Linked DNA regions of Homo sapiens. The protein of the gene in region 6 interacts with the protein of the main gene of each other region in a biochemical or structural test. Each region holds a gene or a part of one and is shown on either strand. Other genes may lie near its edges. The genes, in order: CCNE1, CREB1, NOTCH2, IRF1, SOX10, GSK3B and NFKB1.

The links.
Region 1: of the proteins of GSK3B (region 6) and CCNE1, one has a biochemical effect on the other in vitro, tested with the Homo sapiens proteins (one study listed by BioGRID).
Region 2: of the proteins of GSK3B (region 6) and CREB1, one has a biochemical effect on the other in vitro, tested with the Homo sapiens proteins (one study listed by BioGRID).
Region 3: the proteins of GSK3B (region 6) and NOTCH2 form a complex in vitro, tested with the Homo sapiens proteins (one study listed by BioGRID).
Region 4: the proteins of GSK3B (region 6) and IRF1 form a complex in vitro, tested with the Homo sapiens proteins (one study listed by BioGRID).
Region 5: the proteins of GSK3B (region 6) and SOX10 form a complex in vitro, tested with the Homo sapiens proteins (one study listed by BioGRID).
Region 7: of the proteins of GSK3B (region 6) and NFKB1, one has a biochemical effect on the other in vitro, tested with the Homo sapiens proteins (one study listed by BioGRID).

What each region holds. Positions count from the first base shown.
Region 1 is NC_000019.10:29,817,911-29,822,461, reverse strand, and holds part of CCNE1 (G1/S-specific cyclin-E1), read right to left. Parts: intron 1,761-4,551; coding exon 1,614-1,760; intron 741-1,613; coding exon 645-740; intron 467-644; coding exon 332-466; intron 223-331; coding exon 111-222; intron 17-110; coding exon 1-16. UniProt on the Homo sapiens protein: Essential for the control of the cell cycle at the G1/S (start) transition.
Region 2 is NC_000002.12:207,574,417-207,578,967, forward strand, and holds part of CREB1 (cyclic AMP-responsive element-binding protein 1), read left to right. Parts: intron 1-855; coding exon 856-1,038; intron 1,039-2,214; coding exon of another isoform or gene 2,215-2,231; exon of another isoform or gene 2,232-2,237; coding exon of another isoform or gene 2,238-2,277; exon of another isoform or gene 2,278-2,509; intron 2,510-2,693; exon of another isoform or gene 2,694-2,808; intron 2,809-3,088; coding exon 3,089-3,239; intron 3,240-4,551.
Region 3 is NC_000001.11:119,922,660-119,927,210, forward strand, and holds part of NOTCH2 (neurogenic locus notch homolog protein 2 isoform 1 preproprotein), read right to left. Parts: intron 3,953-4,551; coding exon 3,840-3,952; intron 3,152-3,839; coding exon 2,646-3,151; intron 1,326-2,645; coding exon 978-1,325; intron 120-977; coding exon 1-119. UniProt on the Homo sapiens protein: Functions as a receptor for membrane-bound ligands Jagged-1 (JAG1), Jagged-2 (JAG2) and Delta-1 (DLL1) to regulate cell-fate determination.
Region 4 is NC_000005.10:132,484,081-132,488,463, forward strand, and holds part of IRF1 (interferon regulatory factor 1), read right to left. Parts: intron 3,946-4,383; coding exon 3,846-3,945; intron 3,051-3,845; coding exon 2,874-3,050; intron 2,765-2,873; coding exon 2,715-2,764; intron 2,607-2,714; coding exon 2,477-2,606; intron 2,294-2,476; coding exon 2,171-2,293; intron 1,637-2,170; coding exon 1,587-1,636; intron 418-1,586; coding exon 282-417; intron 1-281. UniProt on the Homo sapiens protein: Transcriptional regulator which displays a remarkable functional diversity in the regulation of cellular responses.
Region 5 is NC_000022.11:37,971,038-37,974,832, reverse strand, and holds the end of SOX10 (transcription factor SOX-10), read left to right. Parts: intron 1-634; coding exon 635-1,338; 3' UTR 1,339-2,521; downstream 2,522-3,795. UniProt on the Homo sapiens protein: Transcription factor that plays a central role in developing and mature glia.
Region 6 is NC_000003.12:119,912,564-119,917,114, reverse strand, and holds part of GSK3B (glycogen synthase kinase-3 beta), read left to right. Parts: intron 1-940; coding exon 941-1,071; intron 1,072-4,304; coding exon 4,305-4,411; intron 4,412-4,551. UniProt on the Homo sapiens protein: Constitutively active protein kinase that acts as a negative regulator in the hormonal control of glucose homeostasis, Wnt signaling and regulation of transcription factors and microtubules, by phosphorylating and inactivating glycogen synthase (GYS1 or GYS2), EIF2B, CTNNB1/beta-catenin, APC, AXIN1, DPYSL2/CRMP2, JUN, NFATC1/NFATC, MAPT/TAU and MACF1.
Region 7 is NC_000004.12:102,503,962-102,508,512, reverse strand, and holds part of NFKB1 (nuclear factor NF-kappa-B p105 subunit), read right to left. Parts: intron 1-4,551.

The DNA.
Region 1 (4,551 bases), on a different chromosome or scaffold from region 6:
TCGCACCACTGATACCCTGCAGTGAAGACATCGTGGGCTTAATCTGAGGCTGACAACTGGATGTAAGCTTAGTACACCTTGTTTGTGCATGCACTGGAAAGCCAACTTACCTGAAACCTTTTGCATCAATTCAGATGACGAGAAATGATACAAGGCCGAAGCAGCAAGTATACCATAAGGAAATTCAAGGCAGTCAACATCCAGGACACAGAGATCCAACAGCTACGGAGAAGAAAAGAACGCTGAGATGGATGCCACCACACGCCTATTCTAGAGTTCCTCACTCCAGCTGCAGGGAAGGTGGCCCCACGGACGTGATGGAGCCACTTACCTCTGCAATCTGTATAAAGATTTGCTGGGGATACTGCGGCAGTAGCACTTCATGTAAGTCATTTAGATATGCAACCTGCATGTATACATTCAGCCAGGACACAATAGTCAGGGGACTTAAACGCCACTTAAGGGCCTAAAGGAAAACAGAGAGAAAAGAGACCGATGATTGAGAAAAGAAGTTCAAAATGCAGCCATGTTCCATGCCACAATGTGTCCAGCTGGAGAACACCTCCCAGAGGCACTCACACTTCAGGTGGAAAAGATCTGCCGTACGCATTTAAAAAATGGCCGGAAAATTCACTGGAACCCACCTTCATAATCATTAATTCCATGGTGAGAATTTCATCTCCTGAACAAGCTCCATCTGTCACATACGCAAACTGGTGCAACTTTGGAGGATAGATTTCCTGAAAGGAAATAAAAGATGGCACTAGCACCAAAGCCAATCTCTAACAGTCTCAATTTATAATGCATCCAAAATGACTTCTCAGTACCCTGGCATGGAAAGAGAGAGGGCGCACTGATGGAATTAACACAGAAGCCACACCAATGGTTGTAAAAAAAAAAAAAAAAAAAAAAAAGAACACAACTCCCACCCACCATTAAATAAATGGATGGAACTTTGACTCATTGTGGGTACTCTTGAAATATCCCCTTTTCAGTACCTTTAACACATTTGAAAGTTGGGCCCATATACCCTTTGATAATCATACACAAATTTTTAATCTTTTCTTTTTTCTTTTAGACAGAATTTCCCTCTGTTGCCCAGGCTGGAGTGCAGTGGTAGGATCTCGACTCACTGCAACCTCGGCCACCTGGGCTCCAGCAATTCTCTTGCCTCAGCCTCCCGAATAGCTGGGATTACAGGCACGTGCCACCACGCCTGGCTAATTTTTTGTATTTTTAGTACAAATGGTATTTCACCATGTCTCAAACTACTGGCCTCAAGTGACCCAGCTGCCTTGGCCTCCCAAAGTGCTGGGATTATAGGCTTGAGCCACCAACCCGGGCCCAAAATTATTATCTTAGTTCAAAGTTCATTTTTTTTTTTGGCTCAATGTAACTACATGAACCTAGGTCTTCCATACCCTCACTACTTTTCTCTTCCTGGTCACTTTCCAGCCTTTTTTTCTTTTTGGCATGTGTCTTAACTTTACAGGGTAGCAAATCAGAAAAATTTAGGATGAGTGCTATAGGCTAAGCGCCAACCTCTTCCCCCAATCTCAGTGGAGCTCGAGAAATAACACACATTATAGAACAAATATTTGAAAATTATTTACCTCAAGTTTGGCTGCAATAAATAAAGATGAAATCCCAATAAGCTGTAAAAGAGTTTTTACAACATTTTCTTGTGTCGCCATATACCGGTCAAAGAAATCTTGTGCCAAGTAAAAGGTCTCCCTGTGAAGTTTATAGACTTCACACACCTGAAAACATATTTAGTAAGTTTTAGCACAAGTAAGTTTTACTTGAGGGAGGGGAAAAAAAAAAAACTTGTAATGACTTTGGTGAAGGAAAATATAAAATGCAAAGTTCCTGAACTCAACAATTGATAGTTTTTTGTTTTTTTGTTTTTTTTTTGAGGTGCCTTATTCTGTCACCCAGTCTGGAAAGTAGTGTTGTGATCTTGGTTCACTGCAACCTCCAACTTCCAGGCTCAAGCGATTCTCTTGCTTCAGCCTCCCGAGTAGCTGGAATTACCAGCACCCGCCACCATGCCCAGCTAATTTTTGTATTTTTAGTAGAAATGGTATTTCACCACGTTGGCCAGGCTGGTTTTGAACTCCCGGCCTCAAGTGATCCACCTGCTTCGGCCTCCCAAAGTGCTGGGATTATAGGGATGAGCCACTGTGCCCAGCCTAACAACTGATAGGTTTTAAATGAGGGGCCCTTCTGGCCTGTCCCACCCTCACCTGCCTAGGATGTGAATCATCCCCTTGCCCGCACATCCCCGTGGAGTAGGCCACCTGCCTGTTAGTCACTCACTAGCACACAGGTCATCAGATGGACTGTCACAGCACAGCAGTGCTGGTGTTCAAGCAAGCAGCCCTTATTTGACTGAATAATGGCCCCACAGGGCAAGAGTAGTGATGCTGGCTATTTGGAAATGCCAAAGAGAAGCCGTGAAGTGCTTTCTTTAAGTGAAAACATGAAAGTAGAGGATTAAAAACATGGCATATCTAGAGCTCAGTACTATCTGTGGCTTCAGGCATCTCCTGCGGGTCTTGGGATGTACCCCCGAGGATGAGGGGTACTTCTGTAGTTACACACTCAACTTCTACATGTTTTCATGAAGCAGGTCTGCCTGAGATGTCCTTCCACTTCAGAAGAAAAGCCCACTTCTCACCCATTCAAGTCTTACAAGGTTGTCTAGGAAGCTTCCCTTAATCAAGAAACTATAAGCTACCGCAGTTCATCCCAGTAAGATATACAACCAATAAAATCTCATCTTTTATGTTTAACCATTATCTATCAAATGTTGTTATACTTGTTCTTTTGATTAACTGTTAAAGAGAAATAAAATAGTGTGGACCAAGAAAAGATTTGAGTTGGGTGCTGTAGCTCACACCTGCAATCCCAGCACTTTGGGAGGCCAAGGCATGGGGATCCCTTGATCCCAGGAGTTGGAGACCAGCCGGGGCAACATAGCAAGACCCCAACTCAACAAAAAATAAAAAATCGGCAGGGAGTAGTGGCTCATGCCTGTAGTCCCAAGGACTGCGGAGGCTGAGGTGGGAGGACTGCTTGAGCCCAGGAATTGGAGCCTGCAGTGAGCCGTGACTGCACCACTACACTCCAGCTTGGGTGACAGAGCAACTCTGTCTCAAAACACAGAAGCCACTCCAATGGTCCAAATATCTTTAAAAATATGCTTAAAAAAAAAATTGAGACAGAGTCTCATGGTCACCTAGGCTGGAGTGCAGTGGCGCTATCACAGCTCACTGCAAGCTCCAACTCCCAGGCTCAAGCAATCCTCCCACTTCAGCCTCCCCAGTAGTTGTGACTACAAGCCTGAGCCACTATACCCTGACAATTTTTTATTTTTTGTTGAAATGGGGTCTCAAGGGCCAGGCGCAGTGGCTCACGCCTGTAATCCCAGCACTTTGGGAGGCCAAGGCGGGCGGATCACCTGAGGTCGGGACTTCAAGACCAGCCTGACCAACATGGAGGAAACCCCGTCTCTACTAAAAATACAAAATTAGCCGGGCGTGGTGGCGTATGCCTGTAATCCCAGCTACTCGGGAGCCTGAGGCAAGAAAATCGCTTGAACCCGGGAGGCAGAGGTTGTGGTGAGCCAAGATCACACCATTGCATGCCAGCCTGGGCAACAAGAGCGAAACTCCGTCTCAAAAAAAAAAAAAAAAGACATGGGGTCTCGCTATGTTGCCCAGGCTAGTCTCTAACTCCTGGGCTCAAGGGATCCTTCTGCCTTGGCCTTCCAAAGTGCTGGGATTACAGACATGAGCCACTGTGCCCAGCCAGGATTTGAACAATATATTTTATTAGAATAAATGGGAATGGTGGAAAAGGGAATGGATTCCAAGAAGTTAAAAAGGAGCAATGTCAGACCTGTTTAAGATAAGCTTGTTCATATATGTTTACAATTTATGACAGTAGCTATAAAACAGGTGATATATGCATCCCAGTGAATACATTTAAAAGCAATTTAGCTGGGCATGGTGGCTCACACCTGTAATCCCAGCATTCTGGGAGGCCGAGGTGGGTGGATCACAAGGTCAGGAGTTCAAGACCAGCCTGGCCAACATGGTGAAACCCCGTTTCTTCTAAAAATACAAAAATTAGGCAGGGTGCGGTGGCTCACGCCTGTAATCTCAGCACTTTGGGAGGCCAAGGCGGGCAAACCACGAGGTCAGGAGATCGAGACCATCCTGGCTAACACGGTGAAACCCCATTTCTACTAAAAATACAAAAAATTAGCCAGACGTGGTGGCGGGCGCCTGTAGTCCCAGCTACTCGGGAGGCTGAGGCAGGAGAATGGCATGAACCCGGGAGGAGGAGCTTGCAGTAAGCTGAGATCGCACCACTGCACTCTAGCCTGGGTGACAGAGCAAGACTCCGTCTCAAAAAAAAAAAAAAAAAATACTGGGCGTGATGGCGTGCGCCTGTAATCCCAGCTACTCAGGAGGCTGAGGCCAGGAAAGTCACTTGAACCCGTGAGGCAGAGGTTGCAGTGAGCTGAGATTGTGCCACTGCACT
Region 2 (4,551 bases), on a different chromosome or scaffold from region 6:
AAATCATCTAATTTTTAAATTAAATTTTTCTATGTACTGTAGCATAAAGGTGATTTAGTTTTTCATAAAGTGAAATATCTACTAGTATGAGCAAAAGTTGACTGATTTATTGTTTAACAAATGAATGACAGGTGTGGCTAATTAGGGCATAAACAACAAAGGGTTCTATATGAGAATGCTTGGATATGTATTAAATAATTTAGAAATGACAGTTAAAGTTTTTTTTCTAAATGATGATCTTGAGCTCTGATTTTAAAATTCCATGAGAGACTGTTGATAATTAAGTTCCATAGGATATTTCAGTTGTTTCATTGAGTGGATTAGATACCATTAAAGAATTTCTACAAGAGTTAGGGAATACAATGCACTGATGAACTGCTTTATTAGTTATATGTTAAAACAACCATTTATTGGGTGCCTATTTCATGGCTGCCACTGTGCTAAGTGTATGAAAGTATATAAGAAAATTCCTACTCTCCAGAAATTTATTTACTAGTGGGACAAGTATTAATACATTATGCAGTTAATGCTAAAATAAAAGAAAGGATCACAGAGTGGAACCTCTTCAGAACCAAATAACTTCAGAAGGAATTTAACATTTTTCCACTTAAAAAAATTGTTAACAGGCATTATTATTATAAATTAGAATGCAGTTCATAGAGTGCATTTCTATTGTAGAAGTTGAATATGGGTTTCCTGAGGAGCAAGTTACTTGAATATATTAGACCCTTCTTGGTGATGTTATTTGCTGTAACTTCTCCTAGATTATTTTACAAATTATTCTACATTGGATGTAATGTTTTAAAAGTCTTATATGGTATTAAACTTGTAACAATAAAATCCATTGGCTTTTAGTTGCCATTACCCAGGGAGGAGCAATACAGCTGGCTAACAATGGTACCGATGGGGTACAGGGCCTGCAAACATTAACCATGACCAATGCAGCAGCCACTCAGCCGGGTACTACCATTCTACAGTATGCACAGACCACTGATGGACAGCAGATCTTAGTGCCCAGCAACCAAGTTGTTGTTCAAGGTAAGGGAATTCAGAATTCACAGGTGTGGTAAATTCTTCAAAATACTAAAATTTTATAAACTCACAGAAAAAGTAAGTATCATATTGCAAACCACCATTCAAATGTAGTTAACATTTCTTCAATATTGATAGTATTTTTCATGAACTCTTCCATTATTCCAATTGGACCAAAATGTCATGGCATAAAAACAACTATTTTCAGTTTTTAAAATATTGCATCTACCTTTAACATCTTTTGGGGTAGAAGAAACAGGATAGGTTAGAAGGAAAGACCAGGAAATCAGGAGTTAGAAAAGATGGATTCTGTATCTAACTGCATGGATCTGCTATGAGGCCTTGAGTAAAAGTCAGCTGCTCTGAGCCTCAGGAAAGTGTTTTGTTTTTTGTTGTTGTTGTTTTTGTTTTTTCATCTGTAAAATAAGAGTTGCACTGAATCTCTGGAAACAATCTTCAGAAGTTCAGGATTCTGTTTCTCTGCTTCCCCCCCCCCCCCCAAAAGAAATTTAAATCTTCTGAGATCATCAGTTTTTATTATTATTATTATTATTTTTTTCTAGAGACATGGTCTCACTGTGTTGCCCAGGCTAGTCTTGAACTCCGGGCCTCAAGCAATCCTCCTTTCTCAGGCTCCCAAAGTGTTGGGATGCCTCTGCACTTGACTCAGTTTTTGTTTCAAATGAAAACATTATATTCCACAGGATCTTATACCAATATGCAAATCTGCTGCTCTTTAGAGAAAAAGTAGTTGTTAAATTCTCGACAAATTATAGAAGTTGCTTTTTTTGGCTTTTTTTTTTTTTTTTTTAGTTTTTTTTTTCTGTTTATTTCAGGAATCTTTATGGATAGCAGTTAACCATTTTTCTTTGGATTTGTTTGAATATTTCAAGAATATAGTTAATGCCAGGTTAGAAATTTGCTGATTGAGGAAATAATAATAAATTTGTTTCTGAAAATATTTTTATAAATAATAATGCATTTTGCCTGTGTTAGGTAATGACAGTTGTATCCTTTCACCATGGATAATTGAATAATCCTGAAACACCAACTGGAGAGAGTCATAACTTATTTAAAGAGCCCTAATGTTTACAGAATATATTCTGTTATTAAACGAGTATTTGAAAAAGATACTATTTTGCTTATTGATGAGAGTAAAACACCTTTTCACTTTACATGCAGGTACTCAAAAATTGTAAAGCAGGATGTCAGTGAATTTGAATTCTGAACGTCAGTTTGAAGATGGTAACATGTTTAGTATATAAATCTTTTCCACTCAAACCATACATTTTAATTGATATTAATAATTAATATGAATAATTTTATAAAGACCTTCAAATTTTTTTAAGTAACATTAGGTTCCTTATTAGGAGAGCATATTATTACGCTGTTTTTAGAAGCAGTTTGACAAATAGTGATTGTGTTTGTTTTTACAAATGGTGAATCAGTTAGAAAAATAAAACTTCAGTTTATTTAGCCATTATCATTTACATTAAAACAATATGTTTTTCAAATAATATAATTGGCATCAAGTGATACACTTTTTCATACTTTTAGTTTTGTTTTAATTCAAAATTTATAATAGTTGACCATAATGCTTTATCTTCTTTTTCATTTTGCTATTTTATGAAAAATCATGGTCGTTTTTATGTCGTGGCAAGAGTCTACTTGAAATTTTTTAATATGAATTTACCAATATCAAAGGAAGACACTGAGGACTATACTCTATCTAGGAAGATCATCCAAGCTGTGCCCCACTTACCTTTTAGACTTAAGGTTGGTAAGCATGTTAACAACAGAATAGAACTGCATTCAAATGAAAAATAAAATGTAAGATCCAGCGGACATAGGTTACTGTAATAAATACATTACATTGGGAATTATTTCTTAGTAGTGGCGCGAAGAGTGCTGATTCTTTCAACGCTTTAGCCAGAATCATCTTTTCTTTTTTGTTTCCCTTTTAGTCCAAAATACATGCTTAGATTGATGATTGATACACATAATTGAATCAAGTTGCAATGTTTCTGTCTTACACCATGCTCACTGTTTTTTTCAGCTGCCTCTGGAGACGTACAAACATACCAGATTCGCACAGCACCCACTAGCACTATTGCCCCTGGAGTTGTTATGGCATCCTCCCCAGCACTTCCTACACAGCCTGCTGAAGAAGCAGCACGAAAGAGAGAGGTCCGTCTAATGAAGAACAGGTACAAATACTGCATTTACTTAGATTGTTATGTGTTAAGTGTGTCTTCACATTCTGCTGGATGTGTATCTTTACATCTACTGGTAATAGGATCTTTGCATTGAATTTTTTTTTTCCAGCAGAATTAATGGATCTTGCTAAATTTTCTTTATTTAATAAGCTGCACTTATAAGATAGCTGTATGATTATGGGTCAATCTTTGATCGTGGAGTAGTTTTCTTTCATGCAGTTTCCCCACAGGAGATTTAATGCACAACTTCCCTATGTCTGCACTCCAACCAGTTAGCCAGGTTATTTAAAAATGGTTTCTTTTCATGTATAGTATTGTTCAAGAAGATCAAGAGTTTCATATATGTATATTAACTGTGTGTTAAATTTTATCTATATTAAATTTACTTGATATAAAGTAAATGTATGGTGGCCAGTTCATGTTTTAATGAATAATATCTTTACTCAAAATAATAACATTTTAACACCTAAAGATTCTTCAAAAATATGTTAATTCTAAGAATACCATGTTACGGACAAAAATCTTAAAATATAGTCTTCAAAAAAATACTACATTCAAAATCTGTGAAATGTTGGTAAAGCAATTCTCAGAAAGTAACTTTATTGCTGTAAATGATTTTGCCGTCAAAAACAATAAAAATAAGTTACTAAATATTGGTTTAGAACTTTCATATAGAAGTGACCGAGACAAACAAAAGAAAATGAAAATAAGGTTATGTAAAGGTTTAAAAAGTTTGAAATTAGTGAAAGTATCTCACTGTTCATCCCAGGATACTTCAAACACTGATAAAGTGAAAGAAGCAGGGCTTCCAAGTCCTAGCCCTATCCCTCCATTTTGGGAGAAGGTATTAACCTTCTGTACCTCAGTTTTGTAAAATGGGATTCCAGCACACACCCAAAGTATTGTTGTAAGAGTCAAGTAAGAGAATCCTTTGAAAGCACTTTGTAACTGTAGTGCTCTGTTGAAATGGGTTTGTGTGTGTGTGTGCAATTTCACAGCTCAGATCAGCTTTTTTGTTCCTAAAATATTCTTAGCTGTCACAATGTTAGTAAATTATATCTAAACTCTGAGAAATGGCAGAGATTTTTCTGGGATATTAGAAAAAGAGTTGGAAACAAGCCAAGTGACTTTTTTTTTTTCTCCCGAGATGAAGTCTTGCTCTGTCACCCAGGCAGGAGTGCAATGGTGCAATCTCAGCTCACTGCAGCCTCCACCTCCTGGGTTCAAGCAATTCTCCTGCCTCAACCTCCCGAGTAGCTGGGATTACAGGTGCCCACCACCACGCCTGGCTAATTTTTGTATT
Region 3 (4,551 bases), on a different chromosome or scaffold from region 6:
ACAGGGTCCCCTGTATGGCGTGAGAGGCCAGGAGAGCTGCTGCTGCATCCGTGTTCTTGAAGCAGTGGTCTGAGTCTTGAACACACTGGCGGTTGTCAATTTCCAGAAAGACTTTAGAGCTGTGGGATGCCAAGGGAGAAGCGGAGGAGGAGAGATGGGGGTAAAACAGAAGAGTGCAGGTCAGGCAGAACATGTCATAAAGGGTGACAGGAGCCTCCCTTCCTCCCCTTCAGCATCAGGTCCCCACCTCTGGGATGCTGCCTTAAGACATATCTCAGGAATTAGAATACTGTCCCTTGAGATCTTAAACACTAATTCCCACATAGAGGATGTCCCACCTTCCTTAGTCTGGCTGACCAAAGCCTTCTGGCTGAGGCAATGCATGACAAAGTGAGAAGCTGTGCTTTCCTCCCGAAGGTTTCAGTGGTCTTCTTCCACTCTTTCATACCTACTCAGTGGTACTTGGTGCTACTCTAAACATACATCCCTGTGTGTTTTTAGTCCTTATTTTCCTTTGTCTCTGCATTGGTATCTCAGCTAGCTGGAGGGTTGAAAGTTTGACAATATACCAACAAAGAGTGAGGTGTGAATGACAGAGCAACTGAAGATCATTACCTGTGTCAAAGAGACATATATTCTAAAGAAGGGCCTTAACAATAAGGCAATGATTAATGTAAAAAGGAATGTCACTAATAAAGGGATTTGAGGCAACTCTGGCAAAAGGTTATGGATTCTGGCATCTGAGGAGGCCTTCCAGACATTCTGCCTCCTGTGTACCCCTGCCCACTTTTCAGCCAAGACGAAGGCATATCTTTACATTTAAACGTAAGTACTGGGGTAACGGGTTTATCTTAAGTGGTGGGCCATTCTATTTTTCTGATCTTTGCATTTCTATAGGTTGAGTTATGACTTGTGCTATATGTCAAAGTGCTAGGCTTCATAAAATTAGCCTTGAAGTTCAGAAACCAAACACCTACCCAGCCACCTCCTGTTCTTGTTCACCAGGAAGGGATCTGCGTGTCATCCTCTGTTTCTTCATAGCAGCTGACTTCTCACCATAATAGGGGTACACCATGAGTTCCCCCTGGGAGTCCCGCTTAATGCGCAGGTTGGTGTGGAGCAGGGTACCCAGTGCCCGCAAGAAGCTGCGAGCATCCTGGAGCAGTTGTTCAGGTGGCATCAATACCACAATAACCAGGGTACCTTCTGCCAGGTTCTCAGGTTGGTCAGCAGCACAGTCCAGCCCATCCCAACCACACTCCTCACTGTTGCACCCCTGGTCACAGTGGTTGTCTTTGAAGTGGTCTGCACAGTATTTGTCATACCTAGGTAAGGGGAAGCAGAGAACAGGCAAAAGAGCTCAGATTAGACTGGAGCTCTATTTGCTTTTTCATTTGGAACTACTGTGGATTTTCCTACCCATTTTCTGTGGCCCACACCCAGGACCCAAATGCCCCACAAAACCTTCTTTGCATCTCCTATCCCTGATGCCTATGCCACTCATCCTTGTTGAGTACTTCCTAAATGAAGAACATTGTACTCACTATGCTGCAGGAGCTTAGGGGCTCCCAGGCAGTTTACAAGCCTGTTAAGTCAGGTTTTCAAACAAAGCTGCATATCTGAAACAAAAGTCAACCTGGTTCATGCTTCCTCTACTTTAGAGAAATCCATTGCCCCCAGTAAGGTAACAACGGGCTTTAGGAAGTGAAAGATGCCTCTAGAAACTTGATACAAGGCCCTGAACCATTGAGAGTTGCCATACAGAGAACAATATTAACATGACCCATTTCTTTCCCTTTCAAGAGTGAATCCCAACTACAGAAGGTAAAGGCAGATGGGTATGTCCTTATAGCACACCAGATATTACTTGTACAGGCTCTTTCAATATTTGGAAAAGGAATTAGAACCCCCAAACCTAAATGATGTACAAACTATTCCATCTATACTCTCCTCTCCTCATCCCCTACCCCTTGATATTTATACTATTTGGTACAACTTTTCATGCTAGCTCAATCAGAAGATTAGGAGTCAAAGAAACAACTTGCTTTGGCAAGTTCTTTAACCCTTGGGCCTAAGTTCTCTCACCTATGAAAGAATGTTAGTAATACCTATGCCTCGTGAGTTGCTGAGAATTAATTGGGATTAAATTATATGGAATGGCTAGTTAATAGGAAAGTTCCTAAGTAAACCATAGAGCATCCTATACAATTAAGACCGGGAGGGTTCACAGACTTAATCTAATTCATGCTTCCTGATAAATCTAGATGGGGAAAAACAGTCTTAGGGAAAGGAATGGGGTGAAGAGAGAGATACAGACCTTTCCATCCATCCTGCAGGCAGGTTATGTGAGAGGCTGCTTGAAGTGGGAAACACCACTTCCAAAAGTTATATCCCCCAGGAGGTCACGAAGGCAGCAGGTGAGAAGGCAAAGATAGGCAGAGAGAGAGGGTCATTATGCAATGAGCATTCCTGGCCCATTGTCAGCAAGGGAGAGCACAGGGCAGTGTGCGATGGGACAAGGCTGGCACCATCTGAAAAGCAGAGGCAGCTTAGGCTGAAGCACTGGAGTGGTTAGGAGCAAGAACGAGAAACTGAAGTGTGTTAGTGACAGTCCCCTTCAGTTCTGGAAAACGTGAAGCCCTTACTTGCATGTCTTGCTGTTCCCCTGGCATTCAAAGTTGTCAAACAGGCACTCGACCGTGTTGCACAGCTCATCACACTGGTTGTTGATATAATCCCAGCAGGGAAGTGGGGAGGAGCAGTTGGCCCAGGGGTTCTCCATGGTGAGAGAACAGTCACCCCCATCCCACTGGCAGGCATGGCTGTTGCAGGCCTCATCACAGACGCCATCCCGAGCTTTGTCGGCACAATACTGGCTCAGACAGGTGGCAGGAGGGGTGCTGGGGGGTGCCGTGTAGAGTTCACAGCGGCTACCCGAGAATGGTGGGGCACACTGGCAGGAGTAATAAGGAGGCTGGCGCTGAGGGTGGCAGCTGCCCCCGTGCTGGCAGGGGCTACTGGCACAGCCTGACTCGCAGTCCCGGGGACTGGGGCAGAAGCAGCGGGGTCCAGAGGCGGTGTGCACACACTGCTCCCCCTTCCTACATTTCACTTGTCCACAGCTGCTCTGGCACCTTGCCCCGGAAAATCCCTGTGGAAATCAGTGAGGAAATAAAAATGGCATTGGTAGGAAAACAGTCATATTGGAAGTTTGAGGTTTCTAGAAAACCTCCACATCTCACTCCCTTCTGTACTTCCCGTTCAGCCCAAGCCAAGGTTACTAGACAGGTTTCCTTTTGGTATCTCCCGAGGCATAGGGATCTCTTGTTTTGGGAAGGTTTCAACCTCTGGCAGTGATAAAAGAATGGGTATAGCAAATAGCTAAAATTGAGCTTCCCTCTACTTTAAGAGACAACTTGCTTCCAAATGGTTCCTGCTAAAGAATGTAAGAGCAGCATTTCCACCAACTCTGGCCCAATCTGGGCAGTGAGATTACCCTCCAGCCTGGGGCCAAGAAGCCCCACACATCAGCCCTATTTTCAAGGGGGCACTCCACCACTTTTTGTGGTTTTCCCTTAGTTTTTCTTAAGACTGACAGTCATGGATTGGGAAGCTCACTGTTTCTGGGAGTGTCTAAACAGCTTTTATTTGTTTTTGTTTTGTTTTGTCACTTGTAAACAGCTTTAAATGGAAAAACCCAAGCACTTTCCTCTGAAAGAGCTAAAATTGAGAAATCTTCCCATTTCGAAGATTGGTAAAACCAGGTTTAATCTCAGTTCTGTTCACAGATTGTATGGAAGAGACAATGCCCCTTCTTAGATGAGCAACAGGGCACTTACCGGGGGACAACGGCAAATGAAACCATCAGGCATGTTACTGGCCACAGCACAAGTCCCTCCATTCAGGCAGGGCATCTGGGGACACACATCGACGAAGGTTTCACAGTGCCGGCCTCAGAAAATAAAAAATAAAAAAGGTTTTAAAAGGCAGAAGTAGTCACTGCAAGTTACTCAACAAACTTTGCTGGGATGGGAACTAGCCATAGGTGAAGCAAGTGTGAGAGAGTTCAGTTCTAGGCCTGTGGTAATCTGAGCATAGAAAGAAAACACTCACTGCATCTCAACATGATTGGCCTGTCACCAGCTCAGGCCAGTCCCTTACTCTGTCTTGCCTACACAGTAAGTACCAACTCACACAACAGGGTGGGTGAGAAAAGTGACTTAAATCCCATCAAAAAAAGAGAAATCACACTTCAGCTTTTTGAAGTCATTTTAGCTTTCATAAGTTGCAAAAAAACAGTTGAAAAACTATTCACTGCATTTTGTTAATGTTATCTACTTCATAGGAGAGGCTACACCAGGCCAATACATTTAAATGGTGATTTGCGGTATAGAGAATTTTCATCTGTGATACCTCATTTCAATCACTTTTTGGCCTTTCTGTAACCTAACTCGTATTCCTTAAAACACAGCTTAATTTTCCTAGAGTTAGTTTCCTCTAGGAATAGTTCTAAAACGGAAGGCCCCTGGGGGCCACTGCTCCAAGATAAAG
Region 4 (4,383 bases), on a different chromosome or scaffold from region 6:
AGATGTGAAGAAGGTTGTATGAGGGTAGGGGACGGTGGCATCAGGTGTGCTTCCCCCTACCCCTGAAGGCCATAGACATGGCCTCTGCTCTTCCCAGCACAGCAGTAAACATCCACTCAGCTTCAGGCAAACCTTAAGGCATGGCAGCCGTAGCTAATTCACAATGTGTCAGTACCCCAGATGCTTTACCGCCCTGCTCCCTGGCCCTGCCCCCAAGCTTTCTCCATCCCTACGTGGTTCTCCCTCATCTAAGAAGCCATAAGGATCCAGGGCCTTCTTACCCCCTGGGCTGTCAATTTCTGGCTCCTCCTTACAGCTAAAGTCTCCATAGACAGAGGTGGGCTGGACTCCAGGTTCATTGAGTAGGTACCCCTTCCCATCCACGTTTGTTGGCTGCCACTCCGACTGCTCCAAGAGCTGGGGACAGAAGAGCAAGAGGCTATCAACTCCCTTCCAGTGCAGACTCACCCTGTGGCCCTGCCCTCAATGAGCCAGCTCCTCTCAGCCAGTATCACACCCTTGGCCATTTTCACAATCTCAGATAGGATGCAGAAGTGCACTGCAGTCAGGACAAGGGCCCGGGAGGGAGGAGGCAGAAATGCATGTTGGCACTGGTCCTCAATTCATTTTCCCACCCCTCTCACACCCACTCTCTGGTATAGCATCTCCACGACTTCCCTCTCAACTGTGTAAGGACATAGTAAGAGGGAATGTGGCTTAAAACAAAGGTTAGCATAATAAATCAAGAAAAGATGACTAGAAAAGCTAGAGATAAGGAACGACATCCATGTCTCAATTTTTTGGGCTAATGGAACAGCTGGCGTACAACTACTGCAAAAACTTTTTTTTGAAATGGAGTTTTGCTCTTGTTGCCCAGGCTGGAGTGCAATGACACAATCTCAGCTCACTGCAACCTCCGCCTCTCAGGTTCAAGCGATTCTCCTGCCTCAGCCTTCAGAGTAGCTGGGATTACAGGCATGCGCCACCAGGCCCAGCTAATTTTTATATTTTTGGTAGAGATGGGTTTCACCATGTTAGTCAGGCTGGTCTCAAACTCCTGACCTCAGGTGATCCACCCACCTTCGCCTTCCAAAGTGCTGGGATTACAGGCATGAGCCACTGCCCCCGGCTGCAAAAACTATATTCACTTTCAAAACTGAAGCAGAAAAAAAAACCTGGAGGATAATTTGCTAACTTTTTCTATAAAGCCATCATCATATTAACGGATCCTAAAGGCTGATTATTGAAGCCTGATGTGCATTTCCCGAACTAGCAGGGCTGGGGCATGTTGGGGCAGAGGATGCAGGCCAGGGACCCATCGCTGATAGTGCCTGACTCACAGAGCTGTCTGATGCCCCAAGGCTTGCTTCAGGACGGCCTGTCAGAGGCCAGGCCTCCCACCTGCCTTCCCTTCCCATGGTGGCTTTCCCACCAGTCAAGCCACGTGAATGTGGCACTTGTGGGACAATGCAAGCAGCCAGGTGACAACAGCAGCTACCCATCCTCTGATTTGGAAGCTTCACTGGTTCTCTCTCCTCACTGAGAAACGGTCACTTCAAGAGTGCCCAGGTAGGAAGGGGCTTTACCTTCATGATGTCCTCAGGTAATTTCCCTTCCTCATCCTCATCTGTTGTAGCTGTGGATGGGGAAAGCAGAGAGGTTGGCTGGCAGTCAGCCACACTCACCCTGCAGTTCCAGTTCCAGCCCACCAGATCCCCCTGCCCTTTCTCTGTCTCTCTGTCTCTCTGACACACACACACACACACACACCCTCCCGGTGGACCTATCTGCCATAGAGATTCCAGAACAGGACCCTGGCCTGGTGACTCAGCCTCTCAAACCCTGAAGCCACGCCGCTTCCCACCCCTACCCTACTTCCTTCCTCACCCTCAGATGCTGGGCTACAGAGGAGGAAGGAGAACCAGCACCCCAAAATGCAGCCCCTGGCCCCCTTCCCTCCTCTCACCAGCCCCCACTGTACTGCAGCCCACTCTGAACTGCCTTCCTAGTGTCCCCGTCGCTTGCCTCCCCCTATGGTGGCTAAGACTGGGCAATGCCCAACTCAATCAATTCAGTGCCAGGTGGAGTTCTGATCATCTTTTCTCTCTCAGGAAGCCCTTCACAGGACCCAGACAGTCAAGCAGGCAGGCCAGGCCCCAGGAGCACCAACCTTCAGAGGTGGAGGGCATGGGTGACACCTGGAAGTTGTACAGATCACTGGTGCTGTCCGGCACAACTTCCACTGGGATGTGCCAGTCGGGGAGAGTGCTGCTGACAGCACATGGCGACAGTGCTGGGGAACAGCAGAAGCCACAGGTCAAGGTTGTGTGCTTTCTTAGTTTGCAAGACATCGAGCGCCCTCCGACCAACCCTGCAGCCTGCACTAATGGGCCACCATGTGCCAGCACCATGCCTCCAAGAGAAAGAGTCATCCCACTGACCTGTGGGGTCTCCTGCCAGACCTGGACCAGCTCACCTGGAGTCAGGGCCTGCTCCACCTCCAAGTCCTGCATGTAGCCTGGAACTGTGTAGCTGCTGTGGTCATCAGGCAGAGTGGAGCTGCTGAGTCCATCAGAGAAGGTATCAGGGCTGGAATCCCCACATGACTGTCGAGGGAGAAAGCAGCTTAGGCCCAGGCCCACCTTAGCATTTCTTCCACTGCTCACCCTGGCCCACAGGTGACCAAAGGCCTGGCTGCTTAGGACCACACTCACCTTCCTCTTGGCCTTGCTCTTAGCATCTCGGCTGGACTTCGACTTTCTTTCTGTGGGGCAGACGGGCTGTCAGCCTTGGTGCAGGCTCTCCAGCCCCAGCTGACCTCCTTCTACCCTCCCTCCCTGAGGGCTTCCCAAGGACCCAGAGTCCTTGGATACCTTTTCTCTGGTTCTTGGTGAGAGGTGGAAGCATCCGGTACACTCGCACAGCTGAGCTGCCCTTGTTCCTGCTCTGGTCTTTCACCTCCTCGATATCTGGCAGGGAGTTCATGGCACAGCGAAAGTTGGCCTTCCACGTCTTGGGATCTGGCTCCTTTTCCCCTGCTTTGTATCGGCCTAGAGGGCAGGAGAAAAAAGAGGATCGTCAGGGCCATGGGTAGGGATCCTCAGCTGCCCCTGGCCTGAAGGAGGAAGGCAAGGTACCCCTGACCTCTTATGCTACCAGAGAGCCACAGTGGTCAAACCAGCAGGTACTCCCGGTGACACTCTGCAGGTCCTAGGCCCTGGGCCTTCTCAAATGCCCAGGCTTGGCTTAAACACATCTAGCGGGCCTCAGTGAAGGGCCCAGCCAGAAGCACTAGAGTCCCCATATCCCCAAAGTGTACTATCTGTGTCTCAGACTATGCCCAGTCTTCCTCCTTGGGCTATCAGCAGCCAGAGGGTAGAGTGGGCACAGACTGGGCAGCAGAGAACAGTTACTAAATGGGTGGGCTGACTGTTCTGAGATGGGCCTAGAGCTCCATCTCTCAAGGATAAAGGAGGCCACCAACCACATGAGGCTTGGACCAAGGGCCTTGGTCAACACGAAGAAAAAGGCAGACCTGGGTCTCTTTCAGTGCCCTGGCTTACAGCTGCTTTTCACAGATGCTTTTGCCAGGGAGAACTTTCATCTAGCCACAAACCCCCTGAAGCCACACACTTTCTAAGATCTTGGCTTTTCCCTTTGAGAATTTGCTGAGATGATCGACTCTCTTCTCCAGAAACACAAGTCTGCCACCAGCCCCTCTTCCCAGTAATTCTGCATGTTGTCTCAGGGAGCTCAGGGACCCCAGTGAAGAGCCTCTGTGTTAACGTGAGTGCCTCCTCTTGTCTCTACCCTGGGCTTCCTAGGCCTGAGTCCCAGGCACACACCTGTGTGAATGGCCCAGCTCCGGAACAAACAGGCATCCTTGTTGATGTCCCAGCCATGCTTGGCAGCATGCTTCCATGGGATCTGGAAGATCATCTCCTCCTGAACAATACACACATACACATAAGGCTGTGTCAGGTCAGAGACCACAGACTTTGGGGCTGAGTCTGAGACCCAGGCCTGCCCAGCCAGACAGGTCTGAGAAAAGGCTGACTTCCCCTTTTTTCCCCTGACATCTGGCTTGGACACCCATCTTGAGGCTGGCTTAAACAGACCACTCTGGATCTCTCAGGAGGGACACCTAGTTTGGATGAGCTGCAGCATTATTAGCTCACAAAGACCTCCCTCTGCCTGTTACACATGTGCTAGGACCCACACAGGGCACCCTCCCCCAAAGCCCTGGTTTTGAAGCTCTGGGATGTTTCTCTCTGGCTTGTAAGCACCCACATGGAAGTAAGAACTTCTTCCATTAGAAAGGACTCCTCAGGACACCTGGGAGCATGGGCTCTTACACAGGGGGTCCTGGTCATACCACTGAGG
Region 5 (3,795 bases), on a different chromosome or scaffold from region 6:
GGCAGAGCGCAAAGGCTGGGCCAGACCACCTGGACAGCAGAGAAGCTGATGAGAGGAAGAACTTTCCACAGGAAAGGTTTTTTCAGAATGAGGCAGGCCTCCCCAGGACCCATCCCTAAGATTTGAGAATTTCATAAACAACTAGAGATCAATCTAAGACACCAGTATTTAAACAAATGCTGTGGGGCGCAGTGGCTCATGATGGTAATCCCAGCACTTTGGGAGGCCGAGGCAGGTGGATCACCTGAGGTCAGGAGTTCAAGACAACCCTGGCCAACATGGTGAAACCCCGTCTCTACTAAAAATACACAAATTAGCTGGGCATTGTGGTGGGCGCTTGTAATTCCAGCTACTCAGGAGGCTGAGGCAGGAGAATCATTTGAACCCAGGAGGCAGAGGTTGCAGTGAGCCGAGATGGCGCCACTGCACTCCAGTCTGGGCAACAAGAGCGAAACTCCATCTCAAAAAAAAAAAACAAAAAAAAACCCGACTCATGCTGCCAAAATGTGAAACTTACAAGGTTTTCCCAGAGGCACCCGCTGCCTGAAGGTGAACCATGGAAGTTCACGTGCGCCCACCTGCCTCTAACCTGCTTCCCCCTTGCGCTCTCTCTCTCTGTCTCCCTTCTACCCAGGCCAGAGCCATGGCCCACCCACCCCTCCAACCACCCCGAAGACAGAGCTGCAGTCGGGCAAGGCAGACCCGAAGCGGGACGGGCGCTCCATGGGGGAGGGCGGGAAGCCTCACATCGACTTCGGCAACGTGGACATTGGTGAGATCAGCCACGAGGTAATGTCCAACATGGAGACCTTTGATGTGGCTGAGTTGGACCAGTACCTGCCGCCCAATGGGCACCCAGGCCATGTGAGCAGCTACTCAGCAGCCGGCTATGGGCTGGGCAGTGCCCTGGCCGTGGCCAGTGGACACTCCGCCTGGATCTCCAAGCCACCAGGCGTGGCTCTGCCCACGGTCTCACCACCTGGTGTGGATGCCAAAGCCCAGGTGAAGACAGAGACCGCGGGGCCCCAGGGGCCCCCACACTACACCGACCAGCCATCCACCTCACAGATCGCCTACACCTCCCTCAGCCTGCCCCACTATGGCTCAGCCTTCCCCTCCATCTCCCGCCCCCAGTTTGACTACTCTGACCATCAGCCCTCAGGACCCTATTATGGCCACTCGGGCCAGGCCTCTGGCCTCTACTCGGCCTTCTCCTATATGGGGCCCTCGCAGCGGCCCCTCTACACGGCCATCTCTGACCCCAGCCCCTCAGGGCCCCAGTCCCACAGCCCCACACACTGGGAGCAGCCAGTATATACGACACTGTCCCGGCCCTAAAGGGGGCCCTGTCGCCACCACCCCCCGCCCAGCCCCTGCCCCCAGCCTGTGTGCCCTGTTCCTTGCCCACCTCAGGCCTGGTGGTGGCAGTGGAGGAGGCTGAGGAGGCTGAAGAGGCTGACAGGTCGGGGGGCTTTCTGTCTGGCTCACTGCCCTGATGACCCACCCGCCCCATCCAGGCTCCAGCAGCAAAGCCCCAGGAGAACAGGCTGGACAGAGGAGAAGGAGGTTGACTGTTGCACCCACACTGAAAGATGAGGGGCTGCACCTTCCCCCAGGAATGACCCTCTATCCCAGGACCTGAGAAGGGCCTGCTCACCCTCCTCGGGGAGGGGAAGCACCAGGGTTGGTGGCATCGGAGGCCTTACCACTCCTATGACTCCTGTTTTCTCTCTCACAGATAGTGAGGGTCTGACATGCCCATGCCACCTATGCCACAGTGCCTAAGGGCTAGGCCACCCAGAGACTGTGCCCGGAGCTGGCCGTGTCTCCCACTCAGGGGCTGAGAGTAGCTTTGAGGAGCCTCATTGGGGAGTGGGGGGTTCGAGGGACTTAGTGGAGTTCTCATCCCTTCAATGCCCCCTCCCTTTCTGAAGGCAGGAAGGAGTTGGCACAGAGGCCCCCTGATCCAATTCTGTGCCAATAACCTCATTCTTTGTCTGAGAAACAGCCCCCAGTCCTCCTCCACTACAACCTCCATGACCTTGAGACGCATCCCAGGAGGTGACGAGGCAGGGGCTCCAGGAAAGGAATCAGAGACAATTCACAGAGCCTCCCTCCCTGGGCTCCTTGCCAGCTCCCTCTTCCCTTACTAGGCTCTATGGCCCCTGCTCAGTCAGCCCCACTCCCTGGGCTTCCCAGAGAGTGACAGCTGCTCAGGCCCTAACCCTTGGCTCCAGGAGACACAGGGCCCAGCACCCAGGTTGCTGTCGGCAGGCTGAAGACACTAGAATCCTGACCTGTACATTCTGCCCTTGCCTCTTACCCCTTGCCTCCCAGTGGTATTTGAATAAAGTATGTAGCTATATCTGCCCCTATTTTCCTGTTCTGCAGCCCCCCAAATCCACATGTAACTCATTACTGTCTCCTGTTATTTATCTCAGTAGTCCCCTCTCCTAGCCACTCTAGCCCCTATTAACTCTGCATTAAGCATTCCACATAATAAAATTAAAGGTTCCGGTTACCTGCTTGGTGAGCCTGACCTGGCCTGTCTCTTCATCTCTTATCCCTGTACTGGTGCTTCCTCAAATGCTTTCTGGAAGTAGCTAGGAGTAGAATGCAAAGGATAGATCATCAAAGGTCTCTCTCTCCCACCTCCCTCCCTCTTTCCCCACCCCCTTCCCCTCCCCCCTCCTCTCTCTCTCCCCCCTCCCTTCTCTCCTCTCTTTCTCTCTCTCTCTCCCCCCTCCCCCTCTCCTTTCTCTCTCTCTCCCCCCTCCCACTCTCCTCTCTCTCTTTCTGTCTCTCTCCCTGCTAAGAAAGTGGGAACAATGGAGAGTGTTAGGACAGCTGGCATCCCAGTGGGGTCCATCTGAGCTCAGGGACTGAAGCCTCAGATGGGAACTTCTCCCCAGCCCGGCGGCTATGCCCCACACTGCAGGGGGGCCACTCACTCTTAACTGGCTCAGCTAGAACTCACTGCCTTGCAAGCAGCCCCTCTGCTCACCCAGCACTCAGCAGACGGGAGTTTGCAAAGAATTCAAGAGACAGGTATCTGAAGAGGAGGAGGTGGGCTGAGGGTGACACCGTGCTGCCTGCAGTCAGAGGCCTGTCCTTCAGGATGTGTGGATAGGCCCTGTGTTGCTGCATCCCCCCACTTGCCACCTCCCCCAGCACACACACAGCAGCCCACGCCAGGATCTAGCCAAGCCTTCACAGCAGGTGCCCATGTCCAAGTCCAGACCAAGGATGTCAGACAGTCTACTCCTTAAGCGCCTACTCCCTAAGAGCTCTTTCCTCAGCAGAAGTCCAAACTGCACCCAGAGGCCAGGACCACTCCACCTCACAAGCACACAACTCCAAAGACTCTTTGCCATCTTGCTCCACTGATGAACAACTCCGATGGTTGGAAGTTCTTCCTCATACCCAGCTCATAACAGCTTATATCCAGCTGCCATTTACTAAGTGCTCCACCAAGGGTTTTATGTCATTCAGGCCAGTGAAGGGGTAGGTCCGATCGTTATCTCAATTTTCCAGATGGGGAAACTGAAGTTTGCGAGGCTGATGCTAAGAAGTGCTGGTGCCAGAATCTGAACCCAGCTCTGACTCCAAGGCTTGCATTTTTAACCATCATCCCCTCCACCTGCCTGTGGTTTGCAGCCCCTGCTTCTGCTTTGTATCTGGAGCAATGCATCTTCCACTGCTCCAGACTGGGCATCCTCAGCTCCCTTCCTTCCATCTGCGGTCTCCAGCCCCTAGTCAGGACCAGGGGAGAGGCAGGGCACCAAGAAGTAGCCC
Region 6 (4,551 bases):
ATCTTTGGTTTGACTCATTTCAAAAATTCTGTCCATGGTGTAACTTTGGGGTAGAGGTCAGAAGGTAAACAGCCAGAAAAGTTTAAAAGTGAATCAGAACACTGACCTTGAGATAAACAGAAGGTTTAAATTATACTCTCTTCGTCCATGAAGTTTCTCTCTCCTCCAGTCAAGAGTCTGATTCTTTACTCCATGCAGACCCAGTTTCTCAGTGTATCTTTTTGGTAAGAAAACTGAGAAAGTCTTCTCTTTTGAAAGATGATGTCAATAGTCAGGCATCTGTTTTTGAATGTCATTTTGAATTATACTTTTTCTGAAGGATATTAACAGGAAGAATGGTGATGCTACTAACAGGGTTATTGATGTCTTGATAGAGCAGTGATTACAGATTTTCTCAGTCCACATGAGTTTTCCTAGACCACTGTATCAATCACCTTGGAGGCTGACATCTCAGAAGAATATTCTAAAGATCACACTTTGGAAATACGTTTACATTCAGCAGCATGCTCTACTAGAAAGAACTATAAACTTAAAAATCAGGAGACCTGGTTTCTGGCCCAAAGTTACTGATTATTCATGATTTGGGGTGCCTCTCTGAGCTTTTCATTTGTGTTTTAAATAAAAGCCCATCTTAGCAGGCTTGTAATGTGAGATGTTAGTAAAATTAAAAGTTATAAAGCACATTGTAAAATTTTCTTCTTTTGAGTTATTAAAGAATGAAGCGAATAGTACATATGGTTAATGACAGTTTAGCTAATTCATATAGAAATAGCTAATTAATACAGAAGTGACACAAAACTTGTGAAAGGAAGATTGAGTGCCAGTAATCCATAGCATTTCACCTGTTCTTTTCTGAGAATCTGTTACTTTATTGACTGCTTAAGGATTCTGATTTGTTTAGAATAGGAAGTATTTAATTAATTTCTACTATCTATTCCAGTTGTATATGTATCAGCTGTTCCGAAGTTTAGCCTATATCCATTCCTTTGGAATCTGCCATCGGGATATTAAACCGCAGAACCTCTTGTTGGATCCTGATACTGCTGTATTAAAACTCTGTGACTTTGGAAGGTAAGCTACTGTCCCTCTCCCTGCCCCTTCCCTTTTCCCCTCCTCCCCCTACTATCTTCTTTTAAATATATTCCTTTTGCAATATCAGCCTAAACACAGTAATTCTTATTCAAGAAGTATAAACTAGTGCAGCTGTGAGAGTAGTTTTGTTAGTTTCTGTCAAAATTATAAATGTATATACTCCTTCATTTAACAGTTTAACTTTTAGGAATTATTTCCTTAGGAATACATATTTACAATACAGTGTATATATAGGGATTTTTATTATAGCATTGTTTATAAGCATCCATTAGTAGGAAAATGGCTAAATAAATTACGGTACATGCAGAGTAATACATGCAACCATGAAAAAGAATGAGGCAACTCTCTGTGAACTGAAAGGGAATGATGTCTAGGAAACATTAAATGAAGAAAGCAAGATCAAGAGTATATGTATTGTATGCCACCTTTTATGTTTTAAAAACATACAGAATGTGACTATATATATATATATGTACACACACACATATATACACAAGTACATGTGTGGCTTATTTCTGAAATGGTACGTAATCCATAATATTTGATTGCCTGAGAAAGGATCTTTGGGAATATAATGTAGTTGGGAAACTCACTTTTTCATTGATTGTATTTTAGTATTGTTTGAATTTACATTAGGTATATATACTCCTTTTTCAGTAAGAACTAAATTTTTTCAAAATATTGATTATTATACATTCCTGTGTATCTTTTTAACTTCACAATTAACCTCAATTCAGGGATGAGATAAAAAACAATGCAGTGTTTTCTTCATTTTCCTCTATAATTTAACCTTTTATTCCACCCTTTTTCCTGCAAATTTCATCAAACTTTCTGCTTTTAAAAGCTCATTTCTTGGTAATATACTGTGAATTTGTAATACAACTTTATTCTTTCCATTTTCAGTTTTCAGTACTTTGTGCCTCTCTGATCTAACCTTTTAACATGTAGTCAAGCCTACATTCCCATGTAACTCAGGCAGTTACCCCGCTACTTCCTCACTGGTGTAATCACCTAATCTCTCTCCTCATGGTCCCTAAGACATCTTTACATAATTTGGATTCTCTCCAATTTAATTTTTTCACCCTTGTTACAGATTCTTTTCACCATAGCTCTATAGATAACATATTGCCCCACACTTGTTAATACCTGTGTTCCTATCCCTTTGTAATACTTTTACATCAATTCACAGTTTAAATTTGGGGTTTAACATAGGATATGTTTTCCACAGGCTTCTCTTGAGACAGATCCTTTAAAAAATAAGTAAATCTGTTCTGTCATGAGTTAATTTTTCTTAGTCTCACAATGTGTCCTCTTTCAGACTGTCCTCATTTTACTGTTTTCTAATTTCAGATGACCTATCACTTTGCAGGCCATGACTCTGTTCCCTGAACTATTTTTAAAAAGGGTGAAAGATAGTAAAACTCTTACCTGGTGTTTGAAACAAAGCACTACTACTTGTCTATAGGAAAAACTGCCCAAATCAGATATGTTTTATTGTTAATGGGGTGTCTTCACCATTGAGAGTGACTGACTTGGTAGGGACAGACTGAGACACCAAGGTTAGAAGAGCTTCTGTTCTCATATAGTGTCAAAACACTTGGTACAGCCCATTCTCTTGGGACATAAAATAGCTTTATTCTGATAAATTTGGAAGAGGGATTTCGCTTGTTTGATAGCTCATTTTTATAAACCCTCTGATTTTTTTGTTTTTAACAAAATTGGTTTGGTCAGATGGAGTTTGGGAAACACTTTGGACTGTACATTATCAGATTGGTAATTTGAACAAAATACTATTACTTTCTTCTTATTTTTTTACTAGATGAAAAGGGGCCAAAAAGTAGCTAAAGAACTAGTTGGGCTATTTAGGAACAAAAAGCTAGATGTGATCACAATATTGGGAAGTAGTTAAAACCAGTCTCCTCTGTAAGAGAGGCTGCTCCGTTTTTGTAGCTCCATCAGGTAGTGAAAAAACTTCAGGCTACAAAGCTTGGGTATTAACGTTTTGTCTCGTAATGAATTTTCTGAACATAATTAGCATCTATCTTGTTAATTAAAAAGCATCCTTTAGAAGATATAACAGTCTCCTATCAATTATGCTGAAAACTAAATGTCATAATTTTCATGCAGCCTAAAAACAGGGATTAGTATTTATTAATTTATGAAATGGTTATTGTATGTCAGTACTTGGGGAGAGGGTTAAAAAACAAACTTCAAAACTAGTGATGAAGGAAAAAGAAGTTAAGGTTAGAGTCATCATTGACTAGAAATAAATGGAAGAAAAGAAATCCCAGTCATTGAAATCCTTGTGACTACTTTCATCTGTCTTTACCCTGGTTTTCCAGTACCTTTACTTTTTTTTTTTGGCACTTACTGTTTTACTGTTTTGATTTTGTTGCATTTTGTCCCTTTATTTATCTTTATTATTAATGTATGTCAGAATGGCTGGCTTCTACAGCAGTTTATTTTATTCTGTCTTTGGATTATCTTGGGCGACATCTCAAAAGAAATTAATTGTAATTTATTATACTTCATATTTAAAATACATGCAATGAAGTATTTTAGTAGGAAAATTGGAATAAGAAAACATGCAATTATACTTACTATAGCAGAGTTAGAATTTATAGGCAGTGAATCATTTCTGCCCTGAAGTTGAAGGGCCTGTTTATAATTTATTGGGTAATAAATGTTTATGTGGTTAATAAATTGACCAAGATATGGAAAAATAGATTGAGTCTATAAGCCTTGAAATATTCGCCGTGAGTCAGAAGTCAAAATGCAAGACAGTGGCCAGTTTCTCACCCTTTTTAAAGAAATACATTGGGTGAGGAGTATTCATTCTTAGAATCCATTGTCATGCTTTTTGGTGGGGGAGGTACCTCTTTTCTGCCCTTGCTTCTTTGTATTTTAGAGGTGGAATTTGGGGAACAGAGGATCAGAAGAAATTCAACACTTATCCTTTTTTGCTTTTGGTGCCTTCTTAGGTGACAAACGCTTTCTTTAAAAATTGCTATTCTTTTTTGCAGAGCAAGGTGATAAAATTGTAAATTTCTTTTATTAGAGATAGTTACAGTTTACATTTTCTTTTTCATATATGATTCAAATGATGTGAATCTTATAAAATCATTTGATACTGTGAAAGGATAGCAGTCTAAGTTCTTTAAGGTTTAGATTTAAAGAATTTCTGCTTTTTATTTTTATTTTTTTTCTGTTAGTGCAAAGCAGCTGGTCCGAGGAGAACCCAATGTTTCGTATATCTGTTCTCGGTACTATAGGGCACCAGAGTTGATCTTTGGAGCCACTGATTATACCTCTAGTATAGGTAAGTACAAATCTGAATATAATGCTCATAATTATTAATTGCTTCTTGATTTTGGTAATTTAGTACTACTAATCTGTACTTTTATTTCCATGGAAAGATGGATATATCCCATAATGTTTTTTTTCTTAAAGCTTGAGATG
Region 7 (4,551 bases), on a different chromosome or scaffold from region 6:
GATTGTATATTCAGTTTTCAGTTTTGATTTTACGTAAATCAATTGCTGATTTAAGTACTTTCCTGACTATCCAACTGAGCAAAAAATTAAGTGTAATTTAATTTTAATTCTTAACATTGCTTTCAACTTCTAATTTCCTCTACATAAATAGCCACCCACACATGCTTCTTCCATCATTCCACATCATCATCATTTTAATTTTATAAATCATGAAGGTTCTTGTATTATATGCAGATGCTATAAATTGTAAGGTATTCTCCTCTGGCCTCATTACCAAGTCCATACCCCATTTAAAAGAAAAAGACACTGAAGGTTATAGATCAAGTCTTAACAGTCAAACACCAATACATGTTTAAGCCTTACAAAATAAGCCTATACTTAAGAACTGGTAGACAAAGAGGTTCTTCAAATATCAATAAAACATGATTTGGGAATTTGTGTTAAAACATCCAAAAATAGTTATTTTCTCATTCCTAAAATTCTTGTCATGGAAGACATATTTTCTAAGACAATTAAGTAATCTATTTTCACTATTTAAATGAACTGCAGGCTTGGGCTTAGAACCAATAAATAGGTTGATTAGGGAGTCTGTCATCACTTTTATGTTTTCTTTTTTACATACTTGTTATATGGTAGAATTGACGTCTGGGATAAAGAGGGATAGGTGTGCCCTAACACTGAAATATGGTATAGTATTTTCAGTCCAAATGACATGATAAATAATAAAAATAATTTTTTGAAATAACTGCTTTTAACAAATAAAAGTCATTAAAAACAAATTGCTTTTTAAAATGGGACATTATAGAGGTATGCTCAACTTTATGCAGGTCTTATACTTTCTTTAGTTCAAGTTAGTGAAAAGTAAATCCTAGAAATATTAGTGAGCCTCATTTATCAAAAAGGTTCACCTTGGCCAAGCTAGGTGGCTCACGCCTGTAATCCCGGCACTTTGGGAGGCTGAGGCGGGTGGATCACTTGAGGTCAGGAGTTTGAGACCAGCCTGGCCAACAGAGCAAAATCCCATCTCTACTGAAAAAAAATAAAAAATAAAAAATAAATTACAAAAAAAAGGTTCATCTCAAAGAAAAATCTAATAGCTTTATTTTCCAATATGAAATGCATGAATTGTCCATACATTTCTACTAGTAGCGTAAGGATTATAACAAAGTTAGAGCCTTGTTTGTTTTGTTTATGCTTCTCTTCATGCCCAGAAGCTGCAGACTGAACTCGTAAGGGAACACACAAAAATTTATCTTTTTCTGGAAGCCATCTCATGGGGAAGTCACAGGCAGAGTGCCTGGATTATTTTATTATTTTAACAAACACTGCCGCTATTAATCTTCGGAGTACTTTTCAACAATGACGGCTTTACAGTGCAATTGTTATAGATGTTAACATTTAATTTCTTTCTCATTTTGCTGGCAACAACAAAAAATATTATATATACATATTTGTAACTAATATATATTAAATATAATTATATTAGTTACAAATATGTATTTATACATATATCATTATATTTAATATACATATTAGTTACAAATATGTATATATATAACCTTTTTTGTTGTTGCCATATCTGTATATGTAACTAATATATATCAGTATATTTAATATACACATTAGTTACATATATATGTAACTAACTTTTAACTTAATTTTTAAACTTGAATGTTTGTTGTGAGTGATGTGAGGGGAGATCAGGGTCAGAACCAGAACTAAGTGGCAGCAAAGCAGAATGAACTGAAGTGAGCAGCGCTCAATAAAATGGTTGTTTTCCCACAGGACTGCATTAGGGTTCCCAGGGGGCACAATGACACTAGGACAGGGAGTATTGGCATTTTGCTCTTTTCTAGTCTAAATGGTATATTTCATTTAAAAAACTGTGTCCACAAAAAAATAAATGGTTCAATTCAGAAATTCAAGGCCAACTTTTAAAAAATGCTACAACTGAAAAATAATGAACAAACTGTGCTAGGATGAGGCCCCAGCTTCTATAGTGTTGGAAAAATCATTAAAGTATGAAAGTGGAAAGTACAGTAAACCCTGCTAACTGCCTGCTTGTTCCTGAGGTTTGCCATCTAGTAACTTTTAACAGTCACAGATTTATGGGTGATAGGTGTTTAATTCTAGAGGTAACATAACAAAATAACATATTTTGTTTTAACTTTTTGGTTGATTAATTTAGATAAGTGTTAACAATTCTTAGATTACCAAGCAGTGCTTGTAGCATTGTTTCTTTTTTGGAGGTATTAGTATTTGATATTACAGTTTCAATGGAGTGTACAGAAATTCTAACTTCACCAAAAAATTACATTTTTCAATTTTACAAGCACCTTTTATCATTCCAATTACTTTATAATCTTGCTCTGGTGCCTCTAAAACTTTGAAACTAAAAGGCATTTTTTTTCTAGTTCATAAATGCCTCTTTCAGAATGAAATGTTCCCCTTTTGGAAGGCGCCAGATACTTTTTAATAAATTATTTGTTCTAGTAAACTTCAAGTGGTCTTTAGATAAGATTTCCATAATATCTAAGACACAAGGACTATTTTGTGCTCCTTTCTTTCCAGAAGGCAAAGCAAAATAATGTAATTTTTGTTCCTTATAGAAGATGGCTGTCCATTTAAAAAAAAATTTTGCAACAACTTCATATCATTCATTCATTTAACAGTTAATGATTGCTTACTATGTACCAACAAGTACAATGCTAAGCATCAGATATTTCTTTCGTCAGTATTGATTAGATATTATTTATTTTTAGTTAAACTAGAGTATTTGATTCTCTCAAACAGCTTTTTCTTTATTTCATTTTTTATAATTTTGGCTATTTTAAAGAATAAATTCTTTTCTAAAGCTTAAGCAGTCAAAATTTGTCACAGTTTAAACTAATAGGATCCATAGATGAACTCAAGTCTGTTGATATCTACTGAAGGCATGGGTCAAAATAAAAGCTATTTTAAGGTTTCTGGATTAATGGTGAAAGATGAATGAAAAATAATAAGGCAATTTGTAATGGATAATTAAACCAAATATATCATTATTCTAATTTCAAAAACAGGCAATAAATTAAAGCAGATGAAATTTGTATTACTGATAATTAATTCTGTTTGTTACTACAGAAAATATGACACAATAAAAATTGTTTTCTTTTTAAAATGTAAAATGCACTATTTTTATTATTAGTACTCTAAATTAAACAAATATTTTCATCCATAATCTATCTTCTGAGATTTCTATAATCTTTAACAAATCACATCTTATGTGACTCTTATTCTGTACAGAACTGTCAGGCTTTAAATTATTTGAGGTGTAGCAATGCAATTTGCACAACTTATTTTCTAAACTGTTGGCTGATCTTCAAGGCCAGGTCAACAACCTCCGGAAATGTAAAAGACAGTATATTAATTTGCACCCAGGAACAACCCCTAATACAGCAGAGACCAAAGGTATGAAGCAATTTCATCATCATTAAAAGAATGTTACTACTTTTTTCTCTTTTTTTCTTCTAAAAGTGAGGCACTGGATACTAATTAATGAAATACTACAAAGATAAAAGGCTTGGTTATGTTACCAGAACTATTAACTGTCCAAATTATGTGGTTTCAAATATTAATCTTTTTTGATTAAAAAAATTCACAGTCAAGGAGCCAAACTGACTTGCAGGACTATGCCAAAACGTTCAAACCTTTCTCCCTGAGGCTGAGTACCTTCAGTTCTTCCAAACTGTCTGTCTCCAAAGTAGTGACAAAATTCAAAGAGAGATCATATGCTCTTGATGGTTTATTGCTGACCTCTAAGAACACTACAAGTGAGTTCAGTATTTATGGGAGGTGCAAGAGTGCAAATGAGAACTAATTCCCAAAAAGCAGAGTAAATTGCTCCAGTATGGTCTACTGTTTACCAAGACGTAGTCATCAATTAATGCTGATTAGACACAAATGTAGATGTAGGAGCAGAACATCTTAACATATCCTCTAGCACTAACTTCTATTTTTCCTTCTCCTTCTCTTCTAATATAACAATCCCACTACTGTAGACAATTCACCTTGTAAACAGAAAACCAACAGACCAACCGAATAAAACAAACTTCCTACTAAAAGTAAGAAAATTAATGAGAAATTTTGCATAGACATCCATTCCTGTTAATGTGATTTCTGATCAATCTGTGGACCAGAAGAGCATAATCTGAGAATTTACTCTATTGGTTATACAACAGTACTGTGCATTTCCAGATACACTTCCTACTGCAGTCAATTCTATACTCAGAATAGCACATCTACTAAGACCCGAAGATGCAAAAGATGACATTTTGAGTACTTCATCAAAAATCCATACAGCAACTCAGATACAATTATTTTACTGTTTGAAAATATCGACTACTTTTCTTACTTCTCCCAAGTTCAAACCAATTGAAGGTTATGAAGTAACCACTTCCCCCCAGAAGCCAGAACTTTCACCTCTTCTGAACAGAGAAATACCTCTCATAAATTAGGTAAAAATAAGGTCTTGCTGATGGAATGATAGTCCAACATTCATGTAGCTGCCAATTC